Homo sapiens: one gene and its partners. The protein of the gene in region 3 binds, or shares a complex with, the protein of the main gene of each other region. Each region holds a gene or a part of one and is shown on either strand. Other genes may lie near its edges. The genes, in order: SERPINA5, FGG, F2 and THBD. A codon is read from its position in the direction of its gene.

Region 1 (7,570 bases), on a different chromosome or scaffold from region 3:
AGAAATCTTGCTCCCTCTGGGCCAACTCTCTCTACTTTTCAGTAAAACCACTAATTATTAAAGACATACTAGACACTCCATAAATATTACTATGTTTAACCTTCACCAAAAGTAAGCTCTCTATTTTACAGAGTTTTCCAAAAGTAAACTCACTCTATTTTACAGATTGAATAGACTGAGGCTAAGTGAAGTGGAATAGCTTGTTTCAGCTACTGAGTGATGGAACCGGAATTAAAATCCAGGTTCCTCTGACTCGTGCACAGCCTGTCTCTGAGTGGCTCTGAGGAGTGATACCTCGTTCCTCCTCGACCTCACCTCCTGGTATCCCCAGGCGGTTCACCTGTATTAGCTCATTTATACTTCTCTACAACAACATGGAGTTAGTATCATTATCCTAACAGTGCAGAAGAAACAGAGGGTCAGAGAGGTCACTCAAGAGGCAGTGGAGTCCTCAGTGCTTGTTTTACGTTTCTTAGTTTCAAATCCAGGGTTTGCCATCGCACTCTTGGGCCTCTGGTGGAAATACATGGCTTTGACAGAGACAGGTGAAGCCCTGGGAGCCTCCCATCCCCCAGACCAGCCTCTACTGAGTGCTTTGAAAGCTTGGTTGGGCTGCCCCTCTCCTGGTCCCTGGCTTTAGTGTTTCTGCAGAGGGAAGAGAGAGGATCAGTCATGTTCACCTGTCATCTCAGGCCAAGGTGAATTGAGGTGGGAGGTGGTGGGGATGTGATGGGTAGGCCCTGGTCAGTCTTCCCGCTGGCCCACCACCATCCCCGAAACCCAAATCTGCTGACTGATATTTCCCGTGTTGGGCAGTGAAGTCCTGCCCAGTTCTACCCTGGACTCAGCTGTGGGAATTGTGTTAGTGAGGACGGTCTGTCCAATATCTTCTAATTACAAAAAGGGATGTGAGGCTTGGAGCCCAGGCAGAGATGAGAGACAAAGTCACAGCTTCCTCTAGATCCTAAAGACCCAGGAACAGAACTTCCCAGAAGAAGTAATCTTGACTTCCTGTTCCACTCCAGCCCATCAGCAAAGCTTGTCCGTTCTATCTCCAAAACAGGTCTTAAAGCTGCCGCCTTTCCCTGGCTTTCTTACTGCCCCCAGTGGAAGCTCCCTTCATCTCCCCCAGGGCTACCCCAGTAGCTTCCTTTCTTTGCCCTGAAAGGCTTTCTATATACAGCATATAAAAGAATCTCCTTCAATCATAAATATGGTCACAGCGCTTCCTCGCCTAAGAAACTCATGGCCAACTCCTGTGTTTCAGATAAATGCTAAACTTTGATTTGTGCTCTAACCCACTAGGGCTGCTGTGACCTGGCTGCACCTGGCCTGGACCTGCTCTGCCCTGGATCACGTGATACCCCCAGGCTCACTCTTCTTTTCCCAGTTTCTCAAACACAGCAAGTTCTGTCCTAACTCTGGGCCTTTGCATACCTTCCCTCTCTACTGGAACCCTCCCCCAACCTTTCTCACTGAGGCCAACTTCTGCATAGGCTGCAGGCTTTTGCTTAAATGTCACTTCTTTGCAATACCTTATCACACTGGACCTTTTCCCCTTCCATGGCTATTCTCTGGAACAGTCCCTTGACTCTTTCTCTCAAAGCTCTTTCAATTACACATGTGCCTTTATATATGCATTTGTCATTGACATTTTTCATTCCGGCCTCTCTCTCCATGGGACCCTCATTTGTGCTGCTCTCACCTTCAAGAGCTTGCAGTCAGGAGAGATGCTCCATAAACCTTTGTAGAATGAATGAATGAATGAACTGACCAGTCTCCTTCTCTGTAATTCAGAGACATTAGACTGCAAGCTGGACACTGAGCAGTGGAAAAAGCCAGGCTGGCCACCCAGAGCTGAGCTCTCCCCGCCCCGGAGCTCACTTGCCAGGTGACCTTGAACAACTCCCTCCCTGTCTCTCAGCTCTGGCTTCCTATTATTTCTTTATTAAAACCACTTGATTGAGACATGACTGCTATTCATAAAGTTGCACATATTTAATGTCTATAACCTGACAAGTTTGGAGATGAGTCTACATCTGTCACTTATCATCACCGTCAGCACCATGAACACGTCCGTTACCTTCAGGCATCTGCCGCCTGTATTCTTCATGCTTCGGTTTCCTGATCTATGAGCAAGGACACTGGCCCAAGGAAGCAGTTTGCTCTTTTATTGCTGCATATCTGGCCAAAAGCCCTACCTTCAGAAAAACTAAAAATTCTGCTTACTTTATTTCTACATTTTGTTCATTTAACAAACTGCCAAATTGTTACTGTCCTTCATGAGCAGCTGCCATGACCGGCCTGGGTGGCAGCCTCCAGGCAAGATGCCCTTATCTCACGGAAGCCGATAATATTGGATCATTGTTCCTGATTTCTAAAGGCCCAAGACTCCAGGCACAGAAAACAACAGAAGCTGCCACTTACTGAGCACCTCCTATCCAGCCGACATTTTGTCCCCATGGCCTTATTTCAGGGTCTCTCAACCTTGATCCTGTTGACCTTTTGAACAGGATGATGCTTTGTGATCTTGTCCTGGGCATTGTGGGATCATCAGCAGCATCGCTGGCCTCTAGATGTCACTAACCCCCACCCCCCTTCCAGTTGTGGCAACCAAATGTGTCTGCAGACATGGCCAGATGTGCTGAGTGAGAGCACCCGCTGTATTTAATCTTCAGTCACACCATCCAGAGGGTGTAATTATTTCCATCTTACCTATGAGGAAACGGAGGCTCTGCCAGAGTTAGTGTGGAGCATAAGGTCACAGAGCTCGGGGGACCCACTCACCTCTGCTGCCTTGGATACCTGAAACTGCAGAGATGAGACTCCTTCAGAGCTTTGCAGACCCCAAACCCCAAAACTCTAGAGTCCATCCTCTCCTCGCCTCACATGCCCTCAAGCCCTGGGGACCTCCCTTTGCGGCATCGGTACTTACTGTGTCCCGTAGCTGAGTGTGCACACAGTGGAGGTGGCAGTCCCTCGGGCTCAGAAAGGGCAGAGGGCTGGCTGGATTGCAGCCAGCATTTGTCACTGACCACAGCCGGCCCTGTCTCCACCCCTCCCTGGCCCCGCCCCGGGACAGCCCCTTCCTTTCCTGGCAGGTTTCCGGCCAGCAGGCCTGCCTGCAGACGCAGCTCCCTGATCCCGAGGCTTTCACCACGATGCCCACTCGCTGCCCCCCAAGCCTTACACCACCAGCTGGGCCATCATTTTCCTGGAATGGCATGGGCACTCCTGAGAGACAAGACCAAAGAGCCTCCCTATTGTTGGCATTCCAGAGACAGGGAAAGGGACAGCTCTAGCAAACCCTCTCTTTTTCCAGGTTCTATTCCTTGGTTTTCTGCAGCTAATTTCTTGTAGATTAGGGGGGGCATATGCTTGAACCTGAGAGCTCCCCACAGGCCTGCTATGCTGACTGGGTCATAGATCCCAACAGTTAGATTCTAGTGGAAATGAGAGGGATTGAGAGACTCACCATGCCTGCAATGAATGGGTCACTGTAGCCAAGCCTGTGATTGCACCAATCACTGAATTGGGGCTCAGAAGAATGAGGGGAATTTTCAAAGTCATGCATTTAATTAGGGGCAGAGTGGGGTTGGTGCATAAGTGGCTGACTCCCAGGCCAGTGCTTGTTGCTGAGAAAGGAGTGGATTCAGGATTTCTATGGGCTTGGGTAGATTCTCCCTTTCTACTTTGAAATCCTGGTTCCCTAACTCAGCCATACACTCTTAAGAGCATTTCCAAGACACCGGTGCAGAGTGCTGTCTCAAGCCTGGTTATGTTTCTAAGGTCCCCTTGCCTGGGGGACATGGTGTGTTGTGCATGGCCGTGATCATGGAAGGTTATGTGGCTGCAGGTGGGGTGTGGAGTTGGTAGAGCAAATCAGAGGTAATACCTGGAAAGTGATTTTGATGTTCAGCAAACACTGTCCATCGACAACCTTTAAGACATTTCCTCTTCCTTCTTCATGGCTTTGGGGCCCAATTATGTGGCTGTTGGATATCCACAGAAATAATAAGAACTAGTATTTATTCACACTTTTAAAAAGACCACCTACTACACCAAGTGCTTTAAACGCATTATCTTTTTTCATCCTTACAATAACCCTTCAAGGGAGACACTGATCTCAGCCCAGTCTAGAGATGAGCACTGGGTATCTAGAGCTAAGTCCAGCTACTACTACATCTCTAGAAGCAAGCACAATACCTACTGGGTATCTAGAGGAAACACAATCACTACTGGGTATCTAGAACCAGGCATGATCACTTCTGGGTATCCAGAAGCAGGCAGGATCACTACTGTAGGATATCCAGAAACAGGCGGGATTGCTACTGTAGGATATCCAGAAACAGGCAGGATCACTACTGTAGGATATCCAGAAACAGGTGGGATTGCTACTGTAGGATATCCAGAAACAGGCGGCAGGATCACTACTGGGTATCCAGAGGCAAGTCCCACTACTACTAGGTATTGAGACCTTAGTTTTTGCTCAGTGCCCTCACAGTTCATTCCCATTGAATTGGAGAGAAGACAGAACACAGCAGGTCAGGGAATCAGCCCCTAATCCCACAGTTAGTAAGAAGAGGCTCTAACAAGGGAACCTGAGTCCCTCTTTTTCTAGGTTTGGCTTTCTTCCCATTATGCCATGTAACATGAGCAAGAGTCCATTATCTCATTGACCTAGAGATCCCTAAACCGTACCTACAGGATGGAAATCAGCACTGCATACCAGTTATGGGTGAGTAATGGAACCCCGAAGTTATCCGTGTCCTAATACCCAGAACCTGTGAATGTTATCGTTCTATGACAAAAGGGACTTTGCAGATGTGATTAAGTTAAGGATCTTGAAGAGATTGTCATGGATTATCCAGCTGGGTCCTAATTACAATCACAAGGATCCTTGCAAGAAAGAGGCAGGAGATTGGAGTCAGAAGAAGGTGATGTGATGGTAGAAGCAGGAAGGGAAAAGTCAATGTGATGTCGGAGCCAGGTGCCAAGGAGTGAGGAAGCTTCTAGAAGCTGGAGAGGGAAAGGAATGGATCCTCCCCTAGAGCCTCCAGAAAGAGTGGAGCCCTGCCAATATCCTCATTCTAGCCCAGTGAGGCCTCTGGCCTCTTCAACCATGAAAGAAGAATTTTGTGTTGTCTGAGCCACTGTTTGTGATAACTTCTTAGAGCAGCCATCAGAAACTAGTGTAACACCGCCCAAATGGGTTCCAGATGAAACTACTTTGGGAAAGGTGGTTAGCCCACCTTTCCTGTGGGCCGTCTCCAGCCTGTGTGTGCTGTCTGTGCTCTGACCACCCACGAGGGAAAGACATCACATGCCGTTTCCCAAGCTTACATCTTAAGGAATGTCTTGAGAATTTGGGGGAAAGTCTGAGGTAACTCATGACTCCCACTGCCATGCAGAAAGAGCTCTGAAGGAATCAGGACTGAGGGTGGTGCGTTTTGAAAGGAGAGATTTGGAAGGAGTCTCGGGGGCATGGCACCCCAGTGTATCAGTCTTCTCTGGCTGCTGTAACAAAATACCTCACACTGGCCTGGCTTAAACACACACTGGATGTCTTAAACAATAGAAATGTATTTTCTTACAGTTCTGGACGCTGGAAATCCAAGGTCAAGGTGCCGTCAGGGTTGGTCTCTGGTGAGGGCTCTCTGGCACTTATAGATGGTTGCCTTCACTCTGTTCGCCCATGACCTCTTCCCTGTGAGCCCACACTGGACACACACACACACACACACACATACACACACACACACCCCCCAAGAGAGGGATTGGGCAGAGGAAGAGAGCGAGCTCTCTGATTACTCTTCCTCTTCTTAAAAGGGCACCAATCTTATCAGATTAGAGTGCCACCCTTATAACCTTATTTAACTTTAATTACCTCCCTAAAAGCCCAATCTCTACAGTCACACTGAGGGCTAAAACTTCAACATAAGAATTTGCGGGAGAAGCAATTCAGTCCATAACACCCAGGGTGACTGCCTAGGGAGGGCCAGTGGCTAGAATATGAGAATTTGGTGTCCTAGAGCCTAGCAGGGCATGGGAAAGGATCAAAGTGGGGAGGTGGTTTCTGGGAGAAGGGCAGGGAAACCAATGTTGGCCCCTGTGATGCCTTGCCCTGCTGAGCACAGGTGCTCCTCTGCTTGGCCCTCAGCCTCCCTGCCCTCTGTTCCATGGTATTGGGCCTCATGGGGATTGAGTGAGACCAGTTCAAGAGCCTACAAGATGTCACTCAGGGCCTGGCTGATGCTTCTGCTCTGAAGTGGGGCACTGGTCTTAATTACTAGTAGGGTGACCAACCATTCCAATTTGCTGGGACTGAGTAATTTCCGATGGTGTGGGATATTCAGTGCTAAAACTGGCAAAGACCTTGGCAAACTGGGATGAGTTGGCTACTCGAGTCATTAGGCTCTTGCCTTGTTCTGGGATCCAGCTTCTAGCTCCTGATCTAGGTCTTGTGTCTTAATAACTTTCCCATTTTTCTTATCTTCTCTTCTCAGTCTTTGTGGGGCTGTCAATCTTGCCTTAAACATCTGCTATGATCCTCCTGTAATCAGCCACCATGCTTCCCTCTGCCCATCATCTGTTTGCCTGCATGAGCTAAAGCATACTGGTACTACCTTTCTTCTACCATCCTTCCTTCCTTCCTTCCTTCCTTCCTTCCTTCCTTCCTTCCTTCCATCCATCCACCCATATATTCATCCATTCATCCATCCATCCATCCATCCATCCATCCATTCATCCATCCACCCATCCATCTATCCATTTTTCCATCCATCCATCTATCCATCCATCCATCCATCCATCCATCCATCCATCCATTTATCCATCCACCCATCCTTATAGCCTTCTATCCATCCTTCCTTCATTTCATCCCTCCAGTATCAATGTTTATTGAGATCTAACCATGTCCCAGAAAATACCCCTGGCCTCAAGAAGAGAGATCAATATCTCAATAGATGAACTAAAGATAGAGAGTCGATGCTCTGACACATGTCTCCACAATAAAGACACACAGGGAGGAATGGTCCATTCTCCCGTGGTTGGAGAGAGGAATGGAATAGGAAAAGCTTTGTGAAGGTGGTGACCTTGGATCTGGGTTTTTGAACCTTGTCTAGGTTTTTATCAGCCCTGGCTGGGTGGAGAGGAGTGAACAGACAGAATAGCTTACAGCACAGCAGTGGGAGGCTGCATTTTGGGCTGAGAGAACCACAGGAGTGATAGCAGTACAGGCTAAGGGGGTGGTGGGGCACCGGGAGCCCATCAGAGAGGAGGAAGGGAGGACAGAGAGAAGCCAGATCAGGGCCAGATGGAGGGCTTGGAAGTCCTGCTGGGTTGGGAACCAGGGTTGAACTTCATTCTGTAAGTAAAGGAGGGATAAATTATCTTGGGCTGTCACGGGTATGGTCACCTGGAGATCAAGACAGGACCAAGTGACACTGCTGTGATAATCCAAGCGAGAGATGATGGTGGTGTGGGCCAAGGAAGCGGGGGTGAGGCTGGAGAGGAGGAGACACATTAAGGAAGGAGAATGGACCTGGTGTGAGCTGAGGGGTAGGTTTTG
Region 2 (7,940 bases), on a different chromosome or scaffold from region 3:
AGTCCATCCATTTCCAGACCCATCGATTTCACAGTAGACTAAGAATTGCTGGTTAGCTTTCAGAGGTTTAATAAAGTAAAGCCCGCTCTGTTTAGCTCCCTTATTGGCAATGTCTTGACAATCTAGAGAAGGAGAATCGACTTTTACTGTGGTTTGAAATGCAGGTAAGACTGTGCCAGCCTTGAAAAATAGCTTTTAACATGTAGTAAACTATTCATTTTCCAAGAATAATTTTCTTACTTTTCACATCAGCATTCCTTTTAAACTGTTTTTTTTAGCTATTCAAGAAAGGTCTAGACAACTGAAATTCTTAGACTTAATGGGTAGCCACTTTCTAAACTATTCCTATACTTTCCAGTACATACTTTCTCCTTTACATTACTTACTTTGATGAACCTAATCCCAATATAACCTTCATCAGTTACCTTTCCCAGTGATATCATGGATTTGCACCGTGTCTTTGCAAGGTTCCTGGCACTGTGCTTCAAGCTGGGCTACCTTCTCTTTCAGGTTAACAATCTTTTGATTATTTGAATTATATATTTCCTGCAAATATCTACAAACAGAAACATAAGATAACAAAAATAAGAAGACAAAAATAAGTATTCCTTTCAGAAGAGTAATTTTATATTTTCTTTGGAAACTGCTAAGTATTTTCTTAAGAAGTGCTTTCTGATAAATTATTCCATTCTTGAGGAAAATGTAAAATTATATTACTAAATTAACATGAATTAAAATTATAAACTTTTTGAAAAAGAAAAACAAATCAAAAAATCAATTAAAACAGGAATACAATGTGGACCTGAATCTTTTTACTTAGAATGGGGCATATTGTCTCAACTCCCAACACAAATAACAAAGTCCTTGTCAATAAGCAAATGTCATTGACATTTTGCTTTTTACTTTATGCATAAGGGACAGCAGATAGCAACCTGCAAGAGTGGCGGGACTGGTTAATAGGAACACCCCCTGATGCTTTAGAAGCAGGAAAAGCTCAGTTCAGTAATTCACATGTGCTGAAGGAGTATACCTTTCACTTGTGGATCTACTGAGGCTATACATATAAGCTTCAATCTAAAATATAACTTACACAGGGACATGATCTGGAACGTTATTGTATGTAAAATAAAACAACAGATACTTCCCCTTTCTTCTTTAATGCTTCTGGTTACATAGCTTTGGGAATGGACTGGGGGAAGTAAAAACCCTCCTTTTGTAGTTACTTACAGGGTGGCTTGCAAATATCCAAAAATGATAGAAAACTGTCTACAATGCATAAACCGTTCTTTCTTTGAAGTAAAAAAGGGTAGACAAACTATTTGTCCACGTTTTCCCTCTACCTTGTCTTAGGCAATTTCTGTACAATAACCTCCTTCAACTTCAATGATGGACAATAATAATGCAAGTAATAATAATAACAATAATAACAAGGGCCCTCTGATAGCAAAAAGAGGAGAAATCTTTCCTGGGCCACTTCTCCCTAGCTACTATTTATCTCAATTTCTCAAGCTGCTTTGAGAAAAATTCAGAAAAAAAAATTGGGGAAAAATATTAAAACTGTATCTGAGACCTTATGTTCAGAAAGTTTATGAGTCCCTGAGAAGCTTTAACAGAGACATTCACTTCCAAATGAAGGGAAGAGACTATGCAGGTTCATTCTGCAATGATCAATATGAGCTTTGCAATATTTGCCACACTTAGTCTCTCAAGACATGTTTCTTCCTGCTCCACATTCAATATAATTTACTTTAGGAGCCAAAATCCTTACTATGCCTCTGCTTGCTAATTTTTTTAACCACCAATTTGTCAGCATTTTTATAAAGAGGATTTTATTTTCAACACCCAAATTCCTATGAGATTGATTTTATGTTGTAAGATAAATGGGGGATGGGGAAAAAATTTTTGATAAATATGGTCAAACTAGCATTTGAAGACATCTAGAACATCTTTCTTCAATGTGATTATTAATAAGCAATTATAACCCAGTATAATTTATATTGCACTAAAAACTTCTATCTCTACTATGCTCAACATAATCAGGCATAATGTCACTGGGATATTATAAATGGGGAAAACACATTAAAAATTACTTTCACTCAAGTATAGAATATTAAATAAAAACTAAATCAGTCTTGCAGAGCAAATTAAAACAAAAATCCTTACCGAATACTTGAGTCATGTGTTAAAATCGATGCTTCATATTTCATAATTTCTTCTAACATTTTCCTGGACTTCAAAGTAGCAGCGTCTATCATATCTGTAATATAGGATCAGAGACATAAAAATCCTTAAGCAAATAGAACAACTAAAACAACAGCAAAAGAACTTCACAGATTATTATTATTATTTTTTGGTCAGTAGTCTTTATTTTCTCACTTGGTTTTGATGATTCATCAGGATTATAAGTGAGTTGGATTGCTTTTATCAGCTGTTTGACTTCTGATGTTTTGTTTTCAACTTGATGTAAGATGTCTTCCAAAGACTGTAGATCCTTGTCTACTTTGGTTTGATAAGTAGACAGGAAATCTGCAATGCCACAGGTAGTTGGACAATAACTACCCTGAAAATATAACAGTGATTAAAAATGTAGACAGATGCTACTCTTAAAATCTATTAAGAAAAATAGGTAAAACCTAGACTATGTTTTTAAAAAGTTACAAGTGCCAGATGATATTTATGAGGGAATTATTTCTATTCCTCTGCCCCTCTCCAGTTCACACACAAAGGGAGAAACATAAAAACTACTTACGAATCTTTCATCTAAGATGCAGCAGTTGTCTCTGGTAGCAACATACTAAAAGAGAAAAAATACAGAAATTTCACTAGTTTATTATCTGTTTTATTTTCCAGCTTTCCATTTTAAACAACGTTTTGTGAAGAGCACACTTACTGCTACACATGTTGAAGAGAGAAATAAAAGAGCATAGAAGTAGAGAATTAAATTCCGGGGGTGCAAGGACCAACTCATGATGTCTGAGTGCCCGGAGCTCCGAGCCTTGTAGTGTCAGCACTGTCACCTCTCAGGCTCCAATTGTCCCTTTATGTAAGCTCCTGGGATAGCCAGGACTGCAAATGGCTGGAGCTGATCACGGGGCCTCCTTACCAGAAGGGTGGGCAGGTCTTTCCCGTTCCTTTTTCCTCATCCTGGCCCCCAACCTATACTGTCAGGTTCCCAGATTTTGCACACAGGTTGAAGCTCCTCCTTTTTGGCCCAGCTCAAGGTTTTTTCTCTGATCCAAAATTATCTGCAAAGGCTAGTGAAGCATTATCCATTGCTGTGAGGAGGAGGGCAGTCCTGGAGGCTGTGTGATGCAACTTCTTCCAGTACATGGCTGAGAGCAAACAGATATGACCTCGAACTAAGCAAACCTAGTCTATCCTTAAGATGGGTCCTGCTGCCATCACCTGAATTACCAAAAGAACTTTCTTAGCTTAGGGATCAGTTAACACTATTATTTTAGCCTAGGGATCAGTTAACATTATTATTTTTAATCTGTGGCTGTGGCAGGAGGAGACTGACTTCCCCCATGTCCCAGTTCACTATTCCCAGGAATGAATGACCCTGGAAATACATTCCTGTCCCTCTGTGTCAACCATGTTCATAGGCTCTCACTTCTCAGGGAGCTTTTGAGCTCAATCTTCCCTTTGTCTGAAGGTGGGCATGGCACCCCATCTGCCACAGAGAAAAGAGCCAGGAGCCCACTTCATTGTTCCTGTGGTTCCATCAAGCTATCTCAGAGAAGAGAAAAATCCACCTCCCTTGTATCTAAGGAGAGTAGAGGCATAGCTGAAGGAAGGGGCAAAATGAGGTGCTGGGGAGGGGCCATCATTTCTGTTTGGCCCTTACAGCATCCTTGTGTTTGGGAAAACATGTCTGTCATCACTGCCTATTGAGATTTATCACTGGGCGTTACACTATTATTAATGTCTCTATTTTTGGTTATCCCTCATTTCTTCCTCTGGAACCAAGCTTATTATAAGTTTTGATGAAATATGTTAGTGGGAGAAATGCCTCCAGTTTGAAAGAAATACTAATACTTTAATTCTGTCTTTACAAAGGTATATTTATTGACTCAAAAACAAAGATAAATATTCATATTCAGTAAATAATCAATAATTATAACAAAGTGAACACATCAAAACCAGATTTGTTGCTTTTCTTCTCCTCCTTAATATATCCCTCTCTGACTTAGCAGTTATTGTCAATCATATCACCATACCACCAGCCAATTAAGTCTCACAATCTTTCTCATCCATCTTTTCCACTCAGCTAATCAGTTGTCAATCAAGTCAGTTGAATTAAACATTTAAGTATTAGTATTCTTTCAAACAGCTCTACCTCAGATAGCATTTGTAGCAACCTTATATTATATGTATACATGCTGTATCCACTGCATTAGATTGTAAACTGATTTCTGTGGCTACGGCATCTAACATATATAGCTGTACTTAACATAGTTGTAGTTAACACTCAATAACTATGTAATGACTTGAATCAGTTGCCTCTGTGAAGAAGAATGGGATGCAGAGGTGGAGGACAGGATTGGAAAAAAAGGCTTTATTTTTCTCTGTAAACTTTCTATATTTAGAATGTTGAATGTATATAAATATTATCTACTAAAATATATATAATGAAAATATGTAATTATTGATCATTCACAAAGATTTACATAGTACACTGATAATTACATCTTGCTAACTTTTTAATATGATTTGAACATGAAAGGTGACTCAGGCATTGCCTTTGCCTTCAAGAAGTGTGTAGCTCAATTGGAGAATGTATAAATAAATAGTTGTTAAGGCTCTGGAGTCCATCTCCCTAGGTTTGAGTCCCATCTTTACAATTTACTGGCTGTGTGATTCAGTACAAGTTACTCAATCTCCTTGAGTTCCATTATCCATGTCAGTAAAAGAGAGATAATACTTATGATATGGTATTTACTTAATAGGGCTATTACTAAGATTTAGTGGGATAATGTGTTGAGCACATTACCCAATTCATGGTAAGTGTTAAGTAAATGTTTGTAAGGTTTATGAATTACCAAATATATTTGGTATAAAATCTATGTAAATAGGAAACTCTTTTAATAGAGCTATTATTGGTAGATTTGGTTCACAGGGAACAAGCTTTGTTGTTCTAGCTACAGAAATTCTCTTTAATAAAAAATCTGTTGCAACTAACTGCAGTCTCCTTCTGTAAGATTCCCCAGAGAAGAAAGCACCTGGTCGTTTAGTTTAGGAAATTCTATCCAAATTGATTTTACCAATCAAAGATCAAATGATAATATAAATGGATTGCATGCCTTGTGAGAAGGTATACTTCCTATCTGTAAGAATGTTCAAGCAAAGTGTGTTTAGACAGAGCATGTCTTTGTGGTTCTTTTTGCTGAAGACCATAAAATATTAGTTTGTTGAATTTAGGGTAACAATTCATGCAGCCACAGGTTGGGTTCTGAGCTCCTTAATGTCATAAAGTTTCATTGGTTGTGTTAAGATATATAATATTCACAAAGTTGATAAACATTTAAATTGAGGACATTAGAAATTCTATCTTATCCCATTTTAGAAGTGGAATACTTGTATTACAGGCTTTTAACTGACTTATATTGGAATCCAGATGTGTTATCACAATTTTAGAGAAAATAATTTCCTTTTACTACAATCTCAAGTCCTAAATCCAAATCATATAAGACAAGATGCTTGCTCTCTGAGAAAAAAAAATGGTCAACAGTGATTTAGCGGTCTACATTGGCCCTGCATTCAATCTAGTATCACTTAGGTTTATTAAATTTTAACTAGTTTTTTCATGTTTGGGCCAATTTTTTCTTTGAAAAATGATAAATGATTGATGAATTCCAGGAATGAAGAATGTTTCTTAAATCACAGTTCTTCTACTTCCAGGTATGTTTTTTGAGATAATAGCATAGGTAGTATTTAAGCCAAAATAATCATTTACTGTAACTCTGAGGTCAGTGGGCTTGTTTATTGAAATAATAATGTCCCAAATTCCCTATCGTCCAACCGTTTGTGTTCTGATTTGAAAACACAAATCTACAGCTAACAGTCTTCGTGTATATTGGTAATTTACTCTGTGAGCCAAGTCTGTTACATTCATCTTTGCTCCAAAATTATTTGCTGAATTTAAATTTGATTATGTAGAAGACTTCTTGACCTAGTGACAAATGATATAGCCCTAAGGAATAATAGAAAGAACTACCAATTTTGAGCATCTTCTTTATGCTAGATATTATGTGGTAGTATAGTTTTTGTTGTCATGTATATTCTCTCATTTAATCCTCACCACAAGCCTAGGAAGTAGATATAATTACCTGTATCTTATAATGAAAAAAGAAAGGCCTAGAGATGTTGTGTAACATATGCAGGGTCAGTGTGCCAGAACAGGAACTCAAACCCATGGGGCCCAATGCCTGTGCTCTTAACCATGAATCTTAATACAACCATGAAGCCCTTCTTAATTTAAAATAATACACAGATACAAGGTGTTATGAGACTCAAAGTTATTCACTGATAGAATGGATTTTAAAGATGTGTGTGTGCATCTACATAACTGTGTGCATGATTATTTGAACACACATTTACATCTATCTACCAACTTATCTATCTTCTTCTCTGGGTTAGAGACAAGATTTTGTGAATGATCTTTTACAGTCTTTGAGTATTTCTCAAACCTAGATTTGTGTTGTTTTATGATTAGCTTGTGTTTATGGTCCTTTTTTTTTTTTCTCTCTCTTTAGAGATGCAGCCTAGCTTTGTTGCTCAGTCTGGCCTCAAACTGAACTGCTGGGCCCAAGTGATCCTCTTGCCTCAGCCTCCTGAGTAGCTCGGACTATGGGCACGTGCCAATGCACCTGGCTTCAGTCCAATTTTAGATGGAAGCAGTTTTTCAATGCTAACTGCATGGTTCAAGTTTAATAGGACTTGATAAATTGAATTCCATCAGTAAGTTAAAGGGAGAGACAGCCACTGCGTGGTCAAGGAAGCTCAAATCAATGGCGACAATGATATATCTGTTTTTCTAACAAGTAAACCATTTCTAGATCTAAGCTAAATTTATAGCCTGAACCCTCAGAACTGGATTTCCTAAAAACTGGCAGAAAGAAAATGACCTATTGGCATACTGAAAGCCAGTCCAACCTAATAGTAAAAATATCCCATTAAGGGCAACAGAGTTGTCTGTTAGAATATTTGCTTTGTGTATAAAAATAGCCCAGGGAAAGTGAAAACGCAAAAGTTTCTTGGTAGTCTGTGAACAATGTGCTTTTAGTTTCACTATGTAAATCAAAGACAAAAACAACATTGGGCACAAGTAAAATGGACTCCCTCACTGGCAGCAGAACAGCACCCACAGGTTGAGTTTTGCACTTCTTAACTTCATAAAGTTTCATTACATGTGTCATTTGGGGGATCTGTCCTAGCGGCAGGGATGTTGAAAAATCTCTGCTGTGATTGGAATTTAGGAAATAAAGTACTGGGTGCCTAGAGAAAGAAGGATTATCCCATTGGCAATTACAGAGGCCAAAGAGGCTGGAAATTAGCCATTTTTAATACTAGTTTGAGACTAAGGAATGATCTGAGGTGCCCTGGATTGAGACAAATTGAACAGAGAAGTTGGATTTAAGTGTTTTGCTGTGCCACATTGGTATCTGCTACTGGTTTGTTTGTGTTTTTCCATCTTTGTGTAATCTACGATTTTAAATCTCTCACCCCATGAAAGAATTTTCATGACTAAATATGATTAGCAGGAGATTTACAAGAGCAAATGAGTTTGGGGGGAAAAATAAACCACCACCAACCAAGGGGCCAAGTTATATTCACAAGAATGTGCTCCGGAAAGAAGAAACTTTTTAAGCCTTTGAGTAGAAATACTGGCCTATGTTGAAAGTGGACAGGCCCCTGTTTGAGAAAAACTGTAGTTATTT
Region 3 (7,020 bases):
TGCCAGGCACTATATCAGGTGCTGGGGATTTTAAGAGAATCAAATACAGTCTCTGCCTTCAAGGAATTCAAAATCTCAAAAGAGAACAAAAATACAAAATATTAAAATGATTGCGGCCGGGTGTGGTGGCTCAAGCCTGTAATCCTAGCACTTTGGGAGCTGAGGTGGGCGCCCAGGCCAGGGGTTTGAGACCATCCTGGCCAACATAGTGAAACCCCCAACCTCTACTAAAAATACAAAAATTAGCTGGGGTGTGGTGGCACGCGCCTGTAATCCTAGCTACTAGGGAGGCTGATGGGGGAGAATTTCTTGAATCTGGGAGGCAGAGGTTGCAGTGAGCTGAGATCATGCCACTGCACTTCAGTCTCGGCAACAGAACAAGACTCATCTCAAAATACATAAATAAAAATAAATAATTCAATAAAGTGATTGCAAGAAAAGTTCTGTTCAAGGCACCAAGAGACCACAGGAAAATGAGTGTCTGGTTTGCCAGAAAAATGAGAGATGGCTTCCCAGGAGAGGCAGAGTTCTGCCTGGCCTGGTGGGATGCATGGATGAACAAACAAGTGGGCATTCCAGTCAGAAGAAACAATCCGTGGAAAGACCCAGAGGCATGAGAAGCTGAGCTAGCAGGGACAGGTAGACCAGGGCCAGTTGAAAAGGACCTTCATCACTTTTTCATCCTGCTGGCCAAGAGAAGCCACAGAATGGAAGCTCCATGAGGGCAGGGCTGTGACTGTCCTATTGGTTGATGTGTACTGAGCACCCGACAGTGCCTGTCATATGGTAGGCACTTAGCGAATATTTGGAGGCCACTGTTGAGTGAATGGGAGAACTGCTGGTTGCAGAGGAAGAGGGGCTGGGTGAATGCAGGTTCAGGATTGTGGACCTGCATGAGCTGGGAGGTGGGGGATAGACAACTTTGCAGGGAGAGAGGAAATAAGTCCCCAGGCTCCAAGGCTGACCGGGGTGGGGTCTCCGCAGGTAACTGTGCTGAGGGTCTGGGTACGAACTACCGAGGGCATGTGAACATCACCCGGTCAGGCATTGAGTGCCAGCTATGGAGGAGTCGCTACCCACATAAGCCTGAGTGAGTGAGGGGCCGGCCTTCCCACCATGGGCTGAGAACAGGGAGCAAGCGTACCTCAAGCCCAACAGCCTCCTGTTGGGCAATTTCCTGTTCCAGAATCAACTCCACTACCCATCCTGGGGCCGACCTACAGGAGAATTTCTGCCGCAACCCCGACAGCAGCACCACGGGACCCTGGTGCTACACTACAGACCCCACCGTGAGGAGGCAGGAATGCAGCATCCCTGTCTGTGGTAAGCTGGGGGCAGTGGGGCGGCCCATGGCCAAGGCCCGGGGGCTTCATGGGGCCTGGCAGCCTGGGATGGGAACCAAGAATACTGGCTACCCAGGCACAGTGGCTCATGCCCGTAATCCCAGCACTTTGGGAGGCTGAGGCAGGCAGATCACCTGAGGTCAGGGGTTTGAGACCAGCTGGGCCAACATGGCAAAACCCCGTCTCTACTAAAAATACAAAAATTGCCAGGCGTGGTGGTGGGCGCCTGTAATCCCAACTACTCTGGAGGCTGAGGCACGAGAATCGCTTGAACCCGGGAGGCGGAGTTTGCAGTGAGCTGAGATCCTGCCACTGTACTTCAGCCTGGGCGACAAGAGCAAAACTCTGTCTCAAAGAAAAAAAAAAGATGCTGGCCACCTTCAGAGCTGGCGTCAGTCATTCAGATCATATCTGTGCCTATTGCTCAGTAAAGTCAGGGAATCAGGGGATCTGAGTGGGGGGATCTGCCAGCCTCCTCCTCCCCCTCCCCACTCTTGACTTCCTTATGGTCCAGGCTGTGGCTCATTCCAAACATGCCTCCTTTCTGATCAAGGCACTCCTCCCTCCGGGAAGCCCTCCCTAGCCATTTCAGTCCACACACCCTGTTCTGAGTATCACAGAGCAAGCCTTGTGCAGTTTGGCCCTGCGGGATTCTGTCATTATTATTTCCTTGGTGTGTTAAGTAGCTATAGCCACCCCTTCCCTGAGGCAGACCACAATAAGCATTTCTTTTTCCCATGAGGGTTGGCAGGTGTGGCTGCACTCGCTAATGCGTCTGTAGGGTCAACTGACGGAGGTTGGCCCTGGCTGGGTGGCTCTGATTCAAATAATGGGTCCAGCTGAGTCTGGCTCCTCGTTGAGGGTTGGGCCTAGATCTGCTCCACGTGCGTTCATGCTGGGGCTGAGGCTGAAAGAAGGTACCTGGGAAAACTCTTCTTATGCTGATGACAGACACAGAAAACAATGAACAGAAAAGCGTCTTCTGTCCTGAAGGCCTGGCTCAGAACAGGCACAGTCAGCCCTGCCCACGTTCCATTGGCCAGAGCAAGTATATGTTCAAGGCCAGGGTCAAGAGGTAAACTACACCTCAGCCTGTAAAATCACAGAGCAAGGGATGTGGATGCAGGCAGGGGTAAAGAATTTGTGCCGATTACCAGTCCACAAACATGGGTTAGTGTTTGTTCTCTAGGCATCCCTGTCGGGCCCATTGCTCATTCCTGGGGTTGGTCTTTTTTTTTTTTCTTTCTAAGATGGAGTCTCACTCCCTTGCCCAGGCTGTTGGAGTGCAGTGGCCCTATCTCAGCTCACTGCAACCTCCGCCTCCTGGGTTCAAGCGATTCCCCTGCTTCAGCCTCCTGAGTAGCTAGGATTACAGGCGTGTGCCACCACTCCTGGCTAATTTTTTTTTATGTTAGTAGAGACGGGGTTTCACCATGTTGGCCAGGCTGATCTCAAACTCCTGACCTTGTGATCCTCCCGCCTCGGCCTCCCAAACTGCTGAGATTACAGGGGTGAGGCACTGCGCCCGGCCTTTTTTTTTTTTTTTTTTGAGATGGAGTCTCACTCTGTCACCCAGGCTGGAGTGCAGTGGCATAATCTTGGCTCACTGCAACCTCCACCTCCTGGGTTCAGGCGATTCTCTGCCTCAGCCTCTCATATAGCTGGGATTACAGGCACACGCCACCACGCCTGGCTAATTTTTGTATTTTTAGTAGAGACGGGGTTTCTTCATGTTGGCCTGGCTGATCTTGAACTCCTGACCTCCGGTGATCTGCCCAGCTCGGCCTCCCAAAGTTCTGGGATTACAGGTGTAAGCCACTGCGCCTGGCCCCTGGAATTGGTCTTATAGCAAGTTTATCCCAACAAAAACAGCTACTATTTACTCCCCAACCCCCATACACACGCACACACATTGATGATAAATAAGTTGCAGGCTTGCAGAAATTGACCCATCCAGGTGAACAGCCTAGTGATCCCAGCAAGCGTCCTGCTGTGCAGCTATAAAAACATGACTCCTCCAGCAGCTCCAGGCAGCCACTACCAGTTAATTACAGATGGCCTAGGAGGCCAAACCTGGTTACTATCTCTGGTTTATTATGTGCCAGACACTTATGCTGTATATTTTGTTTAATCCTCTCAACAAACCTGCAAAAGTGGCATTAGTAACCCCTTTAAAGGCAAACGGTCAGAAGCCCAGAGAGGTTAAGTAACCTGAGGTCACACAGGCAGAAAGCAGCAAGACCGGGGTTCACACCCCTGTCTGTTCCGGTCCATGTGTGGTCTCACTCACTCTGCTGCCTCCTTGCCCCTCACCCACCAGGCCAGGATCAAGTCACTGTAGCGATGACTCCACGCTCCGAAGGCTCCAGTGTGAATCTGTCACCTCCATTGGAGCAGTGTGTCCCTGATCGGGGGCAGCAGTACCAGGGGCGCCTGGCGGTGACCACACATGGGCTCCCCTGCCTGGCCTGGGCCAGCGCACAGGCCAAGGCCCTGAGCAAGCACCAGGACTTCAACTCAGCTGTGCAGCTGGTGGAGAACTTCTGCCGCAACCCAGACGGGGATGAGGAGGGCGTGTGGTGCTATGTGGCCGGGAAGCCTGGCGACTTTGGGTACTGCGACCTCAACTATTGTGGTGAGCTGCCTGGGTAGGGGGCCTGAGTTGCAGGGACAAATCCTGGTGGGAATAACAACAGCCGCTTCTGCTTATCGAACGCTTACCTCATTGAGTGCGCTCATTACAGCCTTACAGTAACCAGGTGGGGGGTAAGGTCCTGTGCCCATTTCACAGATAAGTACACTGAGGCCCCAGGAGGTTATTGCCTAGTAGCCCAACTGTGCATGCACGCTTAACCTCTGCACCAAATGGCCTCCAAGGCCCGTAGGGGAATTGGGGGGATCTAGGGGATGGGTGAGGAATGGCCCAGCCCAGTCCCAGCCGGTGCCTGGGTCCCAACAGAGGAGGCCGTGGAGGAGGAGACAGGAGATGGGCTGGATGAGGACTCAGACAGGGCCATCGAAGGGCGTACCGCCACCAGTGAGTACCAGACTTTCTTCAATCCGAGGACCTTTGGCTCGGGAGAGGCAGGTGAGGTAGTGGGCATCCGAGGGGATGCGGGGCTGCGGGGCTGGTGGCCAGGACTTGCCCCTCACTGCTTGGCTTGCTCTGCAGACTGTGGGCTGCGACCTCTGTTCGAGAAGAAGTCGCTGGAGGACAAAACCGAAAGAGAGCTCCTGGAATCCTACATCGACGGGCGCATTGTGGAGGGCTCGGATGCAGAGATCGGCATGTCACCTTGGTGTGTCCTGGAGCCCTGCGCTACCATTCACTCCTGGGGGCAGGTGTGCTGCTGGACCCCCACCCTCAGGCCCTGCCTGCAGGCCTGGGCTTTACAGATGACAACAGCTGAGCATCCAGGATCCCACCAACTCCACACAGCAGCCACATGAGATGGGTTGTTTACTTCTTTTTTTTTGTTTCTTAGATGGAGTCTTGCTCTGTCACCTAGGCTGGAGTGCAGTGCTGCAATCTCGGCTCACTACCTCGATCTCAGCTCACTGCAACTTCTGCCTTCCGGGTTCAAACGATTCTCTTGCCTCAGCCTCCTGAGTAGCTGAATTTACAGACATGCGCCACCACACCCGGCTAATTTTTGTATTTTAAGTAGAGACAGGGTTTCACCATGTTGGCCAGGCTGGTCTTGAACTCCTGACCTCAAGTGATCCACCTGCCTCAGCCTCCCAAAGTGCCGGGATTACAGGCATGAGCCACCACACCCGGCCCATGGGTCCTTTACTTCTAAGCAGATGGTAAAGCTGAGACTGACGGAGCTGGTGGCTCACCTCCGCGCACAGCTAATGGGTTTGAATCCAGTTCTTCTGATTCCAGAGCTGTGCTACGCTATGTGAACTCTGGACTGGAAGGACCTAGTTAGGGGGTGCAAAAAGCAGGAGGCAGGTCAGGTGCAGTGGCTCACCCCTGTAATCCCAGCACTTTGGGAGGCCAAGACAGGAAGATCACTTGAGGGCAGGAGTTCGAGGCCAGCCTGGGCAAAATGGTAAAACCCCGTCTCTACTAAAAATGCAAAAATTAGCCAGGTGTAGCAGCATGTCCCTGTAGTCCCAGCTACTAAGGAGGCTGAGGCGGGAGGATCGCCTGAGCCCAGGAGGCTGAGGCTTCAGTAAGCTGTGACTGTACCATTGCACTCCAGCCTGGGTGACAAGAGTGAGACCCTGTCTCAAAAATAAATAAATAAATAAATAAAAAAGTGTGAGGCAGCCCCTCAGCATCACACGGAGGCTCCAGGCCCCAAAGGCGGCCAGCCCAAGCTTGGATCTGGGCCCCGGAGGCAGCTCTGCCCAGCTGGGTTCTTAGACCTGGGATTGTTACTTCTAGGGCTGGTGTAGAGGCAGCCCCCTCATCCTCAGCTCCTAATGCTTCCTGCTGCCCCTCCCAGGCAGGTGATGCTTTTCCGGAAGAGTCCCCAGGAGCTGCTGTGTGGGGCCAGCCTCATCAGTGACCGCTGGGTCCTCACCGCCGCCCACTGCCTCCTGTACCCGCCCTGGGACAAGAACTTCACCGAGAATGACCTTCTGGTGCGCATTGGCAAGCACTCCCGCACCAGGTACAGAACTGGTGGCCCGTGGGTGTCTGGCAGGGGTCTGAGTCCTCCAAAGCGATCATGAGGGGCCCTGGTGGCTCCGGGACACATAGGATGTTCTGTATACCCCCCAGAATATAACATCCCAGCAGTCTCTGCTGGAAAGCCCATTTGGTCACGTCCTGACTGAGGCTTGGAGCTGCGGGGAGAAATCCGTCTGTCTCCTGGTCCCTCCAACACTAGGATATAGCCCATGTGGGAGTCTCTGAAAATAGAGTCTGTCTGGACTAGGGCGTGCAGCCTGTGCCCCTGTCCCCGTCCTCCAGGCTGTCTGACTCCAAAGCCCTGCACGGCTTTAGGCCCAGGAAGAAACACCCAGGGGGCTGCCATGGCAGGAACCAGCCCTATCCCCTCCCTGGTGGCCTGCAGGACACACTGTCTCCCAGACCCCAAGGGCAGGCAGTTTCCTGCTCCTTGCTGGGTGAACCTGCAGCTTCTCCATTTCTTTCTTGGGGTCTCTGCAGGTACGAGCGAAACATTGAAAAGATATCCATGTTGGAAAAGATCTACATCCACCCCAGGTACAACTGGCGGGAGAACCTGGACCGGGACATTGCCCTGATGAAGCTGAAGAAGCCTGTTGCCTTCAGTGACTACATTCACCCTGTGTGTCTGCCCGACAGGGAGACGGCAGCCAGGTGGGCCACCAGATGCTTGTTAGCTGAGGGGCAGAAGCCAAGTTCTGGGCCTGGCTCTGATACCAAGTAGCCTTGCAAGAGCCCCTTTCCCTTTTCCAGGCCTCGGTTTCTTGGAGTGAACCCAAAAGTTCTTTTCAGTACTGGCGTTTTATTTTTTATTTATATTTATTTATTTACTGACGGAGTTCCACTCTTGTCTCCCAGGCTGGAGTGTAGTTGTGCGATCTTGGCTCACTGCAACCCCACCTCCTGGGTTCAAGCGACTCTCCTGCCTCAGTCTCCTGAGTAGCTGGGATTACAGGCTAATTTTTGTATTTTTAGTAGAGACTGGTGGGTTTCACCGTGTCGGCCAGGTTGGTCTCGAACCCCTGACCTCAA
Region 4 (7,666 bases), on a different chromosome or scaffold from region 3:
GAGCTGGTTTTATTTTGGTCTACCAGTGACAAGGAACAGTGACAGTCAATTGCTAATTGGCATGAATCATGCAGTTTGAAGCTTTCTTGAACTGTCTCCTGGGAGGTGTTTGTCTCTTCTCTCAATCTAGAGCAACCTTCTGAACATTTTCAACACTGTCAAAAATAAGTAATAATAACAAAAAAGGAAATTGCATAAGAAGATTAGCAACAATTACCATTTTTCAGTACAAATCAAAACAGCAACAAAATTCAGGCTCACTGTTTAAAAGTAAAGATAAATACCTCTTTGGGTGTAATTTCTATGACAGTCCAGCAACATCAATTTAATACCTTTTACATCTCAACCTTTGTTTAAAATTATTTTGCTCTGGGAATCTGAAATTTCAGGATAAATTAGCAAATCTGGTGAAAAAGCAAATGGCCATTTTTATTTTTAGTGTTTTTGTTTCTGTTTCATGTAGGGGTTCTGTCTGAGCAGACAGCTAAGAGCAAAAGAAGTAGGGTCAGGCACAGGTAGGGTGACTCAGGTGAGTTGGCCCAGTTCCTGGGAGGAGAAAACTAGGAAGAATGGGGAATAAGTGGGGCTTGCTTCATAAATGTGAGAGGGCTAGGAAAAAAAAATTCACCAAGATAGTTTACCTGTCACATGACAAGTGGGAGTTTGTAGAGAGAGAGAGACCGGAGAGCTGTGCAAAGTGGATACTGGAGACATACAGGTAAGAACAAAGGAAACAAACAAAAACCTAAATACTTAAAAAAAATAAATATTTTAGTCATCCCTAGCCCACGAGGTCAAGGTCTGCCCAGAAGGCTGCCGACCAATAACGCTCACCCTCCTGCGCCCGGTAGTGAGGACCTGGGACAAATCGCAGTCTGTGTCTTCGTTACAAAATTGCCATCATTGCCCAGTGGTCCAGTGACGTCACGGAAGAGGCCGAGGCTCATTCTCCTCCCTCTAATCACCCCCTCGCCAGTTAGCCATGGAATAGAAGAAAACAGCTTGGGGGGTGCGGGGAGGGTCTTCTCCAGCTGTAATGCCAGCTAAGGTGCTTTGGTAGCAAAGCTGGGGGTGAGGAGGCACAGGCTCCTGGACGGAGCCAGGCTCCTGGACGGAGGCCGCTCAGAGTCTCTGCGGCGTCCGCTCGGTCCGCACGTGCTGCAGCACTACCTCCTTGGAAGGGGCCGCGCACTTGTACTCCATCTTGGCCCTGGCGGCGCCCTGCTTCTTGCGCAGGTGGCAGAGGAGCGCCAAAAGCGCCACCACCAGGCACAGGCTCGCGATGGAGATGCCTATGAGCAAGCCCGAATGCACGAGCCCCACGGCCGGAGGAGTCAAGGTGGAGCCGGGCGTCGGGCTGGGCGGGGGCTCGCCAGAGCCGCTGTCGCCACCGTCCACCTTGCCGGAGTCACAGTCGGTGCCAATGTGGCGGGCAAGGGCCGAGTCGGGCCCGCAGATGCACTCGAAGGTACCGGGGAGGTTGTGGCACACCCCGGAGCAGAAGCCGCCGTTTTCGCACTCGTCGATGTCCGTGCAGATGAAACCGTCGTCCAGGATGTAGCCTTCAGGGCACTCACAGCTAGCCTGGGTGTTGGGGTCGCAGTCGGCTGGACAGGCAGTCTGGTTGCAAAACATCTGGCACCTGTGCGGCTCGTGGGGAATGGGCGCGAAGCCCTCGGCGCAGACGCAGAGGTAGCTAGTTTGGTTCAGGGGCTGGCACTGGTACTCGCAGTTGGCTCTGAAGCACGGGTCCACGGGCTCCACACACTCGCCGTCCACCAGGTCGTAGTTAGGGTAGCAGTGGCACTCGAAGCCACCCTGTGTGTTGACACAGCGCTGCGGACACGGACTGGGCTCCAGTATGCAGTCATCCACGTCCTCGCACCGGTGTTGGTCGGCCGCCAGCCGGTAGCCGGTCTCGCACATGCACGAGTAGGAGCCCGGCTGGTCGGGGTTGGGAACGCAGAAGTGCTCGCAGAGGTCGTTGCAGGACTGCGTCGCGGATGCGGTGCAGGAGCGCCCGTCTGCCTGCAGGGCGGCGCCGGCTGGGCACTGGCAGCGGGGAGCCCCAGGGATCGCATTGCACGCGTGCTCGCAGCCGCCGTTCTCCACGCTGCAGTCCCAAGCGCCCGGCGCCTCCCTGGCCCAGTGCCCCTGGACCGCTCCGGGCGGCGCGGTGCACATTAGCTGTAAGCCGAGGGGAGCCACCGCGGCGGAGCTGCCCACCGGCAGCGCCTGGAAGTCCGCTCCGCGGGCCGCGAACGGGGTGCCGTAGGTGATCGAGACGGCGGCAGCCGCGGCGCCGGGCTCCACAGCCAGTGGCCTGCAGGTGGCTGGGAAGTGGAACTCGCAGAGGAAGCCATCGGCCTTCACTTCGCACTGCTGCTCCTCCCAGATCGGCTCGCTGGGCACAGTGGCCTCAGCAGCGGAGACAGCGACGCACAACGGGCCGCAGAGGGGAGCCCCATTGAGGTCGAGCCGTGCCCACCTGCTATAGCTGGTGTTGTTGTCTCCCGTAACCCACTGGAAGCCGCGCAGGGGCCCGAGGCGCTTGGGGTCGCCGCAGCCGGGTGGCAGCTGCAGGCCGATCCAGAGGCGCCGGCGGCCAACGCCGCCGTCGCCGTTCAGTAGCAAGGAAATGACATCGGCAGCCACCGAGGAGCGCACTGTCATTAGGTGGCCCCGCAGTCCGTCGCAGATCTGACTGGCATTGAGGAAGGTCGCGGGGCCCGGGTAGAGCGCGAAGCAGTCGTGCTCGACGCACTGGCTGCCACCCGGCTGCGGCTCTGCGGGTGCGGGGAACCCCAGGCCGGCCAGGGCCAGCGCGCCAAGGACCAGGACCCCAAGCATGTTACCCAGGCGCGCCGCGTGCAGGCGCCGGGGAAAGCGCGGGCACTGCGACAGGGCCGTGCCGGAGCAGAGGGGCACAGGACGCCGATGGCGACAGCCTCTCCTGTCCGTCCCAGCCCAGACACTTCTTGCCGCTGCGCGCAGCCCCTGCGAGGCAGCCTCTGACATGCGGATCGGCCAGGGCTCGAGTTTATAAGTGCCCGGCCCTCCCTCCCTGGACGTTCGGGAAAAGGAAGGAAGTGCCTGGTGGGAAGGGCTGATGCCGCATACTCGGATTGCTGGGTTCTCTGGCCGCCCTTGCGCCCGCCCTCGCGCATGGGATCACCTCGCCGGGATGAGTAAACCCTGCCCTGGCGCAGGGAGGTTCTCGGGCGGGGCCGACAGGGGCAGGCGCCAGGGAAGGCCAGCACCCCTGTAACAAGACGACTGTCCCCGCCCACCACTCGGGCCCCCACGCGTGCAGCCCTCTTTCATCTCTTGGTCCTCCTTTCTTTCTTTTCATACATGTTACAGCCACTTCCAAGGAAAGCCTGGATTGCAAGAGCTCTGGGAACCGGAGACTTCAGAGAAGAGGGCTTTGAATGGGGAGTGGGGGAGGTGGTGCACAGGACCTGCAAGACGCTGGGAGGGGTGATCGGCACCAAGGGCACTTTGGGAGGACCTGCCTAGGACGTGGACTTCCCCGAAGACAGGATCGCAAGGAGAGACAGCTGGATCCTGTCCGCGGCCAAGGTGCCTGGCTCAGGAAACCAGCGGAGCGCGCTTGGCCTCACAGGACAGTGGGTGTGGCTGGGGTGACGGGGCAGGGTGGGGAAGACTGGCCTAACACCAGCGCCCTCTGCCCCATGGCTGGCCAGGGACCCGCGAGTCCCTGGACACGCACTGGCCAACGCCAGACCCCATCTCATCGGGTGGGGAAGTCGCGGGGACACTGTCAGGGCGCCGAAGTCCGGACCCGGCTCAGAGGCGGTGGCAGGTGAATTGCTGCGGCGCCGGGTAGGGGCGGGCGCGTGGGAGCGAGTCAGCCTGGCCAGTTTCGGCCCAGCTTCCGAAGGATGGTGCTTCTTGCACCCCAACAGAGTGGCTGGCAACCCCCCAGGGGAGCGCGCAGGATCCCAGCTGATCCCACCCGGGTCGGCTAAGGAGGTTTCCATTTCGTCCAGAGTCCGAATTGATACCCACGTGCATAGAAACGCCACTTGCTCGGCAAAGGGCACTGAAGAGCCACCGTCCTGTGGATGGGCAGGGTGGGGGGGGGGCTGGAGGAGGACATGGGAATCCGTCACTTTCGACCTCTTCCGGTGGTTCACTTACCGGGAATGCGGAAGAGTGGGTCTCCCCCTCGGGTCGCCCCCATAATGGTGAGAGGCAAACTGTTTAAAAACACCCTTGCCTCTCTCCTCTACTGTCCTCACAACGAGCGCCAGGGGGCGGCGCTGTCGAGCTCTAAACAAAGCCAAGGAAGTTGGAGAAGTTTCGGGCTAAAAAGGGTTAAGGTGTAGGAGCACAGAGTCCTCCTTCTGGGGTTGGAAGCTCCGTTCCCGGGCAGCTCAGCGTGGATTCCGCTGCGTTCACCTCTTGCCTCCAGGGCCCAGTAGATCCTGGGCTTTAAACAAGAACAGAGAGTATGGCGTCTGCCACGTGCGACAGACACGCACCGGTGGGGTGGGCCGGGCTGGACTGGACTGACCTGCAGTGACCAAACGGGTGGGGCGTGGACACTCTGAAAGTGAAAAAGGCAAGCACGACTGTCCCGCCGCACACTCCCCAGCGCCTTGGGGCAGAGAGCCTCCAAACGTCCCGCTGAGTTGAGCTCTTCGCTGGGAAGGCCGCCCCAGCACCCAGGAAACGAAGGAGCTGCTGGACACGGGGGTCTGAAGCTCCCGGAATGCACACAGCTGCGCCTCCCCTGACGCGGACCCCCTGGGAAGAGGAAGGGAAGAGCGGCAGATAGCACAGTAGGGCTTGTCCGGCGGGAGCAGTCAAGCTGTGGCTGCCTAGGCTGAATCAGGGGGTCGTGACTCCGGTGCACAGCCTGCCTACGCGGGACGCAAAAGCAGGGCTGCCTGCGGTGCCGCCATGGGGGTGAGGGTGGAGCTTCAGATAAGGGCAGGAACCTCGTTGGGGCACTGCTGAAAGGTCTCAGAATGTGGGGACAATTCCCAGAGTGAATGAGACAAGAGAGGGGGACAGGATCGGTTACAGAATCAGAAACCAGTGCAAAGTGAAAATGTGGGGTCCATTGTTCAATTACAAGGATTCAAGACTGTGATAGCAAAGTGTTAAACAAGGAATGAGGCCCTGGGGGGGTGATGAGAGGGCCCTTCTGAACCTGCCAGCCCTAAAAGCCACTGAGGGACATTCAAGGATCAGATCTCACCCCACACCAGGCTGGCTGAGTTCTTGGATGGATTCTAGCTGATTCACCAACACAATGTTTCACTGGACGTCCTACACAGGTCCACTTGCACCCATTGCTGATTCTTGCAAAGAAAAAAAAAGTGTGAGAACAGCCCCAATAGCTGAGTCCACTAAGAACTCAGTGATGTCTGTGAAACTTGGATCAACCCTATATGAGGAGGTGCAGATGTTGGATGTTTCTGTATTAGAAAGAAACTAGAGCAACAACAGATAGAAGCAGAGCATTGTCCCATGGGGGGTACCACAGTGTCTGGGTTGCCCTACACAAGGATGGGTGGACATGACCCACTTGGCTTTCCCACCTGTAAGGGCTTTACCCCTGACCCTCAGGATACCTTTGCCTTGTGGGGCCTGCCCTCAGCCGCTTTGTTTTTCCTCTCCAGCCAATACCTTGGAGGCTTTGCATATTTTAGACTACCTTCTGGTGACTGAAGGTCCCCTGTCTGTGTTCTTGCCCCATCCCTATCTTCCTATCTGTGCCCCCTGCACACCAGGGTGGGCCACTCCTTCCTATCCCTTTGCAGATAACACATCCACTTCCCAATGCTTGGCCCAGTTCCTGGCCCAGCACCCTCACTCTGGCCCACCAGCAGACTTGCTTTACTCCTGAAACAGCTCCCTTGAAGAACACCCATCTGGTCCTAAATACTGTTGCCAAAATCTTGTTTTCAGCCATCCTTCTAGAAGCCTTGGTGCCATTTGCACTTGTGACCCTTCACCATTCTCAAGGCTCCTCCTCCAATTACTTTTGAGACACATGTTTTCCTCCCTTCCTCTCCTGTGAGCCTTGGGGAGGCCCCTGGGATCCTCTTGTACCACCCACTAGAGTGGCCATTCTCAAGGTTTTGCTGGTGGTCTTCATCATCTCTTTACAACCCACCTTTTGGTGAACTTACCCATTCCCCTGGCAGTGATAGCAGTGTCCAAGGAGATTGGGGAGGGAGTATTCTAGAAGGGACCCTTACCCCATCTTTCCCAGTATCAATAGTTGGTCCACTGAGGTTTTAAACCATGCACTTGCCTTTGACTTTCTGCTCTCCTTCATCCACTGCCTAGTTTTTGTGTCTTGTTTCCCCTGATCACTGCTCCTGCCTTCTCAATTTATGCTGAGACAGTTGGGTCCCCAGCTCTTTTCCTTGCTGCTTATCTCTCCAGCTCTCCACCGTGGCTGAGGCTACTCTGATCCTCATACTCCCTCAGTGCTGCTCCCACCCGCTGGGAGAGCCCATACTCTTTCCCCTCCGCACTGAAGATGCTCGCGATAGTGCCTCTACTCTGTGGCCACAGATGAGAAAATTTGCACTCAAGGGGCTATGCTGGAATTTGGACCCAGAGCCTGCACCCCTTGCACCTCACAAGGCTTCAAGGACCAGTGTTCTGCTGGTCTCCATGAATGAGGAAACATCCTGGCAAGGGAGGCTCCTGCTCACTGTCAGAGAAGCACCTTGTCCGCTCATCTCCACCCTGTAGTTCATGTCTCTCCCTCTGCTAGCAACATTCTCGTCTGCCAGGCTCTTCACCCACTGAAATCTTTCCATTCTTTCAAGTCCCAGTTCAAGCTTCCCCATCAGCAAGTTTTCTGAATAACCCAACCAGAACTGATCTGTCTGTGATTCCCATAGACAGGTCGTTCTCTCAGCTCTTTAGTACTCACCACTCCCTCCCTGCCCTGTACCTAATCATGCATATACCACACTTTTTGCTGCACTTATACTCCAGATTCCCACACATTTTTGTATCCCCTTACACCTAACAGCACGCTTTGTAACTAGACAGTGCCCAGAGCTTATTGGAGCACCTGTGGTAGATGTTTCTTTGTCCTCTCCAGGGTGATTTTCTCACATTCACCTGCAAAGACAAGGATGGGGGACCTCAGAGCCTCAGGGTGAATTAAGAGTGTGGACTTTGGAGCCGACTTGGCTGCACTGGAGACCCAGCTCCGGCATTCACAAGTTTTTGTTTATTGTTAAGATTTGACTAATAACCCCTCCCCGTGTAGCTCAGTTTCCTTGACTGTGTAATGGGAATAGTCCCTCCTTCAAAGTGTTAGGATGAAGATTAAATGGGTTATACATGTAAAGCATTTAGAACAGAGGAGCCGTAGTCAGCTCTCAATAAATTTTAGCAAAAAAGAAAACACTCAAGTCCCTAGAATTTGGATTCGGCATCTGATTGTATTCAATATCCAGCATGGTTTCTTTTCCATGGTAGGGACTCACCAAATGTCTGTTGGATTTAATTTGTTCCAGCCAAGCATTTCTACCACTAATAACAATAAGCAATTGTGAAAAAAAATCAGGGATGGAGGCATAGGGAAGAAATTGAAGCATGTCCTGTCTTAGGCTTCCCATCTGCCCTAGAGACATCCATAGTGACTGTCCCCATTGCCCAGGTG

Evidence for each region.
Region 1: the proteins of F2 (region 3) and SERPINA5 are in contact, whole or in part, in a crystal structure (PDB 3B9F), measured with the Homo sapiens proteins. Residues at the interface, in NP_000497.1 of Homo sapiens: Arg383 (codon at 5,817), Pro386 (codon at 5,826), Glu388 (codon at 5,832), Leu389 (codon at 5,835), Leu390 (codon at 5,838), Cys391 (codon at 5,841), His406 (codon at 5,886), Cys407 (codon at 5,889), Tyr410 (codon at 5,898), Pro412 (codon at 5,904), Trp413 (codon at 5,907), Asp414 (codon at 5,910), Lys415 (codon at 5,913), Trp455 (codon at 6,533), Glu457 (codon at 6,539), Asn458 (codon at 6,542), Leu459 (codon at 6,545), Asn506, Arg541, Ile542, Asp562, Ala563, Cys564, Glu565, Gly566, Asp567, Val588, Ser589, Trp590, Gly591; in NP_000615.3 of Homo sapiens: Gln241, Lys295, Lys296, Arg297, Thr368, Ile369, Phe370, Thr371, Phe372, Arg373, Ser374, Ala375, Arg376, Leu377, Asn378.
Region 2: the proteins of F2 (region 3) and FGG are in contact, whole or in part, in a crystal structure (PDB 2HWL), measured with the Homo sapiens proteins. Residues at the interface, in NP_000497.1 of Homo sapiens: His450 (codon at 6,518), Pro451 (codon at 6,521), Arg452 (codon at 6,524), Arg461 (codon at 6,551), Arg486 (codon at 6,626), Ala489 (codon at 6,635), Ala490 (codon at 6,638), Leu493, Ile530, Val531, Glu532, Arg533, Cys536, Asp546, Asn547, Met548, Phe549, Cys550, His605, Phe607, Arg608, Leu609, Lys610, Lys611, Trp612, Lys615; in NP_068656.2 of Homo sapiens: Pro439, Ala440, Glu441, Thr442, Glu443, Tyr444, Asp445, Ser446, Leu447, Tyr448.
Region 4: the proteins of F2 (region 3) and THBD are in contact, whole or in part, in a crystal structure (PDB 1DX5), measured with the Homo sapiens proteins. Residues at the interface, in NP_000497.1 of Homo sapiens: Phe382 (codon at 5,814), Ser385 (codon at 5,823), Pro386 (codon at 5,826), Gln387 (codon at 5,829), Leu423 (codon at 5,937), Arg425 (codon at 5,943), Thr432 (codon at 5,964), Arg433 (codon at 5,967), Tyr434 (codon at 6,470), Arg436 (codon at 6,476), Asn437 (codon at 6,479), Glu439 (codon at 6,485), Lys440 (codon at 6,488), Ile441 (codon at 6,491), Met443 (codon at 6,497), Lys470 (codon at 6,578); in NP_000352.1 of Homo sapiens: Ser424 (codon at 1,581), Cys425 (codon at 1,578), Glu426 (codon at 1,575), Cys427 (codon at 1,572), Tyr431 (codon at 1,560), Ile432 (codon at 1,557), Leu433 (codon at 1,554), Asp434 (codon at 1,551), Asp435 (codon at 1,548), Thr440 (codon at 1,533), Asp441 (codon at 1,530), Ile442 (codon at 1,527), Asp443 (codon at 1,524), Glu446 (codon at 1,515), Asn447 (codon at 1,512), Gly449 (codon at 1,506), Phe450 (codon at 1,503), Asp479 (codon at 1,416).

The regions. Positions count from the first base shown.
Region 1 is NC_000014.9:94,576,856-94,584,425, reverse strand, and holds the start of SERPINA5 (plasma serine protease inhibitor preproprotein), read right to left. Parts: upstream 3,001-7,570; 5' UTR 2,936-3,000; intron 2,812-2,935; 5' UTR 2,716-2,811; intron 1-2,715. UniProt on the Homo sapiens protein: Heparin-dependent serine protease inhibitor acting in body fluids and secretions. Inactivates serine proteases by binding irreversibly to their serine activation site. Involved in the regulation of intravascular and extravascular proteolytic activities.
Region 2 is NC_000004.12:154,609,642-154,617,581, forward strand, and holds the start of FGG (fibrinogen gamma chain isoform gamma-B precursor), read right to left. Parts: upstream 3,016-7,940; 5' UTR 2,969-3,015; coding exon 2,891-2,968; intron 2,795-2,890; coding exon 2,750-2,794; intron 2,561-2,749; coding exon 2,377-2,560; intron 2,258-2,376; coding exon 2,164-2,257; intron 557-2,163; coding exon 426-556; intron 123-425; coding exon 1-122. UniProt on the Homo sapiens protein: Together with fibrinogen alpha (FGA) and fibrinogen beta (FGB), polymerizes to form an insoluble fibrin matrix. Has a major function in hemostasis as one of the primary components of blood clots.
Region 3 is NC_000011.10:46,722,196-46,729,215, forward strand, and holds part of F2 (prothrombin preproprotein), read left to right. Parts: intron 1-984; coding exon 985-1,090; intron 1,091-1,186; coding exon 1,187-1,323; intron 1,324-3,663; coding exon 3,664-3,978; intron 3,979-4,302; coding exon 4,303-4,431; intron 4,432-4,515; coding exon 4,516-4,642; intron 4,643-5,800; coding exon 5,801-5,968; intron 5,969-6,468; coding exon 6,469-6,642; intron 6,643-7,020. UniProt on the Homo sapiens protein: Thrombin, which cleaves bonds after Arg and Lys, converts fibrinogen to fibrin and activates factors V, VII, VIII, XIII, and, in complex with thrombomodulin, protein C. Functions in blood homeostasis, inflammation and wound healing.
Region 4 is NC_000020.11:23,046,655-23,054,320, forward strand, and holds the start of THBD (thrombomodulin precursor), read right to left. Parts: upstream 3,019-7,666; 5' UTR 2,851-3,018; coding exon 1,123-2,850; 3' UTR 1-1,122. UniProt on the Homo sapiens protein: Endothelial cell receptor that plays a critical role in regulating several physiological processes including hemostasis, coagulation, fibrinolysis, inflammation, and angiogenesis.